Regions from separate parts of the Homo sapiens genome. Here region 1 is linked to region 2. A link means that fine-mapping ties the variant in region 2 to the expression of a gene that starts in the linked region. Tissue or cell type: monocytes after R848. Region 2 holds a variant in brackets; the other region holds the start of a gene. All regions are shown on one strand. Distances are between the middles of the regions.

What was found.
Region 1: it holds the start of ERV3-1, and the variant in region 2 is fine-mapped to the expression of ERV3-1 in monocytes after R848 (Quach 2016, PIP 0.92).

What each region holds. Positions count from the first base shown.
Region 1 is chr7:65,004,996-65,007,739 of GRCh38, reverse strand. It overlaps ERV3-1 (endogenous retrovirus group 3 member 1, envelope), which reads left to right and starts at 1,053. Exons shown (of 2, transcript NM_001007253.4): 1 at 1,053-1,199. ERV3-1-ZNF117 (ERV3-1-ZNF117 readthrough) reads left to right here and starts at 994. Exons shown (of 4, transcript NM_001348050.2): 1 at 994-1,199. RefSeq lists a silencer at 793-962 and an enhancer at 1,063-1,122.
Region 2 is chr7:64,966,296-64,969,304 of GRCh38, reverse strand. No RefSeq gene overlaps it. Among named protein-coding and RNA genes, the nearest start is that of ZNF117, 23 kb to the left of the region's middle. RefSeq lists a silencer at 1-7 and enhancers at 105-848, 849-1,592. The variant A/C (reference allele first, on the strand shown) is at 1,698.

The sequences.
Region 1 (2,744 bases), 39 kb before region 2:
CTCAGCCTCCCAAGTAGCTGGAATTACAGGTGCACGCCACCAGGCCCAGCTAATTTTTGTATTTTTATAGAGACAGGGTTTCACCATGTTGGCCAGGCTGGTCTTGAACTCCTGACCTCAGGTGATCCGCCCACCTCAGCCTCCCAAAGTGCTGAGATTACAGGCGTGAGCCACCGTACCCAGCCCATGGCTAATTTTTAAACTTTTTTGTAGAGATGGAGTCTCACTATGTTGCCCAGGCTGGTCTCAAGCTCCTGGCTTCAAGCAGTCCTCCCACCTCAGCCTCCCAAAGTGCTGGGATTACAGGCATGAGCCACCATGCCCAGCCGCAGAAGGGCAATTATTACACAGTGACAGTGGAAGGAACAGAGACACAGTCGGTGGATGGTGGGAAGATAAGAACATTCACTCTGAGGGCTTCTAGTAACGTTGGAGAAGTGAGCATCAGCTTAGCAGAAGGGAGGGAGGGAAGGAAGCACAGGAGGTTTGAGGAGAGAGAGAGAGGAAGTATGAAATCAGAGCTGCACTTCAATGTGGTGGCTATTGGCCATGTGTGGCTACAGGATAGCTGGAATATGGCTGGTCTGAACTGCGATGTGCTAGAAAGGTAAAATACAGGGTTAGATTTAAAGATTTAGTTCCAAGAATATATACACTACATTAATAATTACATATTGCTCCTATACTAAAATAATATTTTGGATATATTGGGTTATTAAATGGTTAGAATGAATTTCACCTGTTTCTTCTTTCTTCTTAACTACTAGAAAATTTAGAATTCACACATGGCTCACATTTTATTTCAGACGGTTGCCTTACAAGGCAAATGCCGTCTGGGGAGGGCCTGGGTCAGCTCAGGGAGGAAGCTCTGCCTGAAAAGGCTTAGGGTTCACTCTACATTCAGCCCAGCATCTGAGCACGTCTTCTGTCAATCAAGGCCTGAGAGGGTGGGGCCCTAAACATTATCCAATCAGGGACGCTGGGCTGGGACCCGTCCAATCAGGCACTCAGCTGGAGCAGACAGGACGGCTTCCGGGTTTGGTGGGGCCTTTGTCTCTGGCGGCAGCCGGAGCTTCTGGTGTAGTCTTCACTGCTCTGTGTCTTCTGCTCCTAGAGGCCCAGCTTCTGTGGCCTCGTTACCTGCAGGTATTGGGAGATCCACAGCTAAGACGCCAGGACCCACTGGAAGCCTAGAAATGGTGAGAGTGCCGGGTCCGACATCCCGAGAGAGGGGGCGGGGCTGGTTGGAACTGGTGGGAAGTGGCTGTGGCGGGACTCTGGCCTCCCCGCAGCTGGCTCCAAAATCCGCGGCCCCGAGTTCTCCTTGGCGCAGCTCGGCCCTCAGTCCCCTTCAGCCATAGGATGGCGGCCGGGCTGACAGCTCGGACCCCGGGCATCCTGTCTCCTCCCTGCGCAGTGACTGTGCCTTGTTCTGGAGTCCTCTGTGGGCAGCTCTGCCCCCACTGCCGCAGCTCTCCCCGATTGTGCAGGGACCACTGGACGGTCGTCAGGGGAGAATACTGACTCAGGATGCAGAGTTCATGAATGGGAAGAGCTTTGGTCTGCGGGGTTCCCAGTCCCCCTTTTTTTCTATTAAAAATTTGTGGAAGTCTCCGCAGAAATATTAAAGAATTTAATTAAAGAGTAATTCAAGAATTGTAGAGCACCAAGCTATGTTTTGTAGTTTGTGGTTTATGGAAGGGGCTTGAAGAAAACACTTTTATAAAGTGCATGATAAAGGAAAGCAAATTCAATAATTGGTTAGGTAAAGTTATGTAGTTTCTTAATTTGTACGATCAAGGTGGAAATTCCCTGGTCATGTAATGAGAGGTTAATTGGCAGTTTATAGTTGGTTAAGCCTGAATTTTATTTTCCCCCAATGTAATACTTTAGAAAAAAATCATTCGAGTTAGATTTTTTTGCAAGTAGCAACCCTAGGACTGGAGCCACCTCAGTCTAATTGCCTGCCACTTAATTATTTTCACACTCCACAGGGCACTGATTTTCCTCTGCATTTTTCACTTCTGTCTCAAGCAGGGTCTCAAGACTTCTCCCCATTTCCCATTCCTCCAGCCTAACTCTGGCTTGCAGTAAAATACTAAATTTCCAGTTCCTTCTGACATTCCCAAATGCCAATTTCCCCTCCCTAATTCACATTATCAACTATTTGTCCTTTAATGTACACTTTAGTGTACATTTTAGGTACCATATTTTAATTAATCATTTTTTGACAAAGCATTGGCTGGCATTTTAAAAAAGATTTGTTTTCTGTTTGTAAAGATTTCCCAAGAGAAGAAAGCAAAGAATAATCCCCTGACACTGTATTGTAAAAAATGTTCTGTGCCTCCTTTCCTTTTATTGCCTCTAGCCACAGAAACCTTATCAGAATATTTTTGGGTCAGGGTTTCCCTTTGGAAACTTTATAAGGTAATGTGTCCTCAGCCACCCTTCAGTTTTTTCCCTGGTTCTGGGTTTCAGTACTGTCTGGGGATAAATCAAGATATCCACTGTGGCTGTGTATGCTACAATGTCTAGTAAATTTCAGCTCCTGGCCTGGAATGAAACTTCGCATATCTGGGAATGGGAGACAGGACAGCCTGAAGTTGGAGTGTAGCCTCTCAAGGGAGCAGGTGGATGCCCTGAGGCTGAGAGGAGTCTCCTGGGGTACTCTTCCTTTGAAAAGCAAACCCTTAGAGAAGTTAAGATTGTCTTCAAGCAACCCGGGTTCCATTTCTCGAAGACAC
Region 2 (3,009 bases):
TTCTATACACCTTGAATAACATTCAACACTTGAATAACATTTAAGCAGAGAACAAAATCAAGAACAGAGCTCTATTTAAAATAGCCACAAACAAAAAATAATATACCTAGGAATGGATTGACTCAAGGAGGTAAAATATCTTTAGAAGGAGAACTACAGTCTACTTTTTAAAAACTGTAATTCTCTCTCCCTCTCCCTCTCCCCACGGTCTCCCTCTCCCCACGGCCTCCCTCTCCCTCTCTTTCCACGGTCTCCCTCTGATGCCGAGCCAAAGCTGGACTGTACTGCTGCCATCTCGGCTCACTGCAACCTCCCTGCCTGACTCTCCTGCCTCAGCCTGCCGAGTGCCTGCGATTGCAGGCGCGCACTGCCACACCTGACTGGTTTTCGTATTTTTTTGGTGGAGACAGGGTTTCGCTGTGTTGGCCGGGCTGGTCTCCAGCTCCAAACCGCGAGTGATCCGCCAGCCTCGGCCTCCCAAGGTGCCAGGATGGCAGACGGAGTCGCGTTCACTCAGTGCTCAATGGTGACCAGGCTGGAGTGCAGTGGCGTGATCTCGGCTCGCTACAACCTCCACCTCCCAGCTGCCTGCCTTGGCCCCCCAAAGTGCCAAGATTGCAGCCTCTGCCCGGCCGCCACCCCGTCTGGGAAGTGAGGAGCGTCTCTGCCTGGCCGCCCATCGTCTGGGATGTGAGGAGCCTCTCTGCCTGGCTGCCCAGTCTGGAAAGTGAGGAGCGTCTCTGCCCGGCCGCCATCCCATCTAGGAAGTGAGGAGCGTCTCTGCCAGGCCGCCCATCGTCTGAGATGTGGGGAGCGCCTCTGCCCTGCTGCCCCGTGTGGGATGTGAGGAGCGTCTCTGCCCGGCCGCCCCATCTGAGAAGTGAGGAGACCCTCTGCCTGGCAACCGCCCCGTCTGAGAAGTGAGGAGCCCCTCCGCCCGGCAGCCACTCCGTCTGGGAAGTGAGGAGCGTCTCCGCCCGGCAGCCACCCCGTCTGGGAGGGAGGTGGGGGTCAGCCCCCCGCCCGGCCAGCCGTCCCATCCGGGAGGGAGGTGGGGGGGGTCATCCCCCCGCCCGGCCAGCCGCCCGTCCGGGAGGGAGGTGGGGGGGTCAGCCCCCCGCCTGGCCAGCCGCCCCGTCCAGGAGGTGAGGTGGGGGGGTCAGCCCCCGCCCGGCCAGCCGCCCCGTCCGGGAGGTGAGGGGCGCCTCTGCCCGGATGCCCCTACTGGGAAGTGAGGAGCCCCTCTGCCCGGCCAGCCACCCCGTCCGGGAGGGAGGTGGGGAGGTCAGCCCCCCGCCCGGCCAGCCGCCCCGTCCGGGAGGGAGGTGGGGGGGTCAGCCCCCCGCCCAGCCAGACGCCCCGTCCGGGAGGTGAGGGGCGCCTCTGCCCAGCCGCCCCTACTGGGAAGAGAGGAGCCCCTCTGCCCAGCCAGCCGCCCCGTCCGGGAAGGAGGTGGGGGGGTCAGCCCCCCGCCCGGCCAGCCGCCCTGTCCGGGAGGGAGGTGGGGGGGTCAGCCCCCCGCCCAGCCAGACGCCCCGTCCGGGAGGTGAGGGGCGCCTCTGCCCAGCCGCCCCTACTGGGAAGAGAGGAGCCCCTCTGCCCGGCCAGCCGCCCCGTCCGGGAAGGAGGTGGGGGGGGGGTCAGCCCCCACCCGGCCAGCCGCCCCATCCAGGAGGGAGGCGGGGAGGTCAGCCCCC[A/C]GCCCGGTCAGCCGCCCCGTCCGGGAGGGAGGCAGGGGGGTCAGCCCCCCGCCCGGCCAGGCGCCCCGTCCCGTCCGGGAGGTGAGGGGCGCCTCTGCCCGGCCGCCCCTACTGGGAAGTGAGGAGCCCCTCTGCCTGGCCACCACCCTGTCTGGGAGGTGTACTCAACAGCTCATTGAGAACGGGCCATGATGACAATGGTGGTTTTGTGGAATAGAAAGGGGGGAAAGGTGGGGAAAAGATTGAGAAATCGGATGGTTGCCGTGTCTGTGTAGAAAGAGGTAGACATGGGAGACTTTTCATTTTGTTCTGTACTAAGAAAAATTCTTCTGCCTTGGGATCCTGTTGATCTGTGACCTTACCCCCAACCCTGTGCTCTCTGAAACATGTGCTGTGTCCACTCAGGGTTGAATGGATTAAGGGTGGTGCAAGATGTGCTTTGTTAAACAGATGTTTGAAGGCAGCATGCTCGTTAAGAGTCATCACCACTCCCTAATCTCAAGTACCCAGGGACACAAACACTGCGGAAGGCCGCAGGGTCCTCTGCCTAGGAAAACCAGAGACCTTTGTTCACTTATCTGCTGACCTTCCCTCCACTATTGTCCTATGACCCTGCCAAATCCCCCTCTGCGAGAAACACCCAAGAATGATCAATAAAAAAAAAAAAAAAAAAAAAAGAACTACAAAACACTGCTGAAAGATATCAGGGACAACACATACAAATGGAAAACATTCCATGCTCATAGATTTGAAGAATCAATATAATTAAAATGTCCATGATGCCTAAAGCAACTTGTAAATTAAATGCTCTTTCTATCAAACTATCAATGCAATTTTTTGTAGAATTAAAAACAATGGTTTTAAATTCATATTGAATAAAAGAGCCCAAATAGCCAAGGCATCTTTAAACAAAATGAATAAACCTGGAAGCCTCACTTTACCTGACTTCAAACTGTACTACAAGTGGCAGTAACCAATATAGCATGGTTCTCGGACAAAAATAAACATGTAGACCAATGGAACAGAAGAGAGAGACTTGAAATAAAGCTACACTCCTACAACCAACTTATTTTTGACAAAGTCAACAGAAATAAAGGGGAAATAACTTTCCATCTGATAAATGGTACTGATAAATAATGGACTATATGGTTAGTCACATGCAGAAGAAAAAAACAACTCTTACCTCTCAGCATATAAAAAATGTAACTCAAGATAGATTAAAAACTGAACATGAAGTTTCAAGCTATGAAAATCCTATATGAACACCTAGAAAGTACTCTTGTGGACACTGGCCTCTGAAAACAATTTGAGA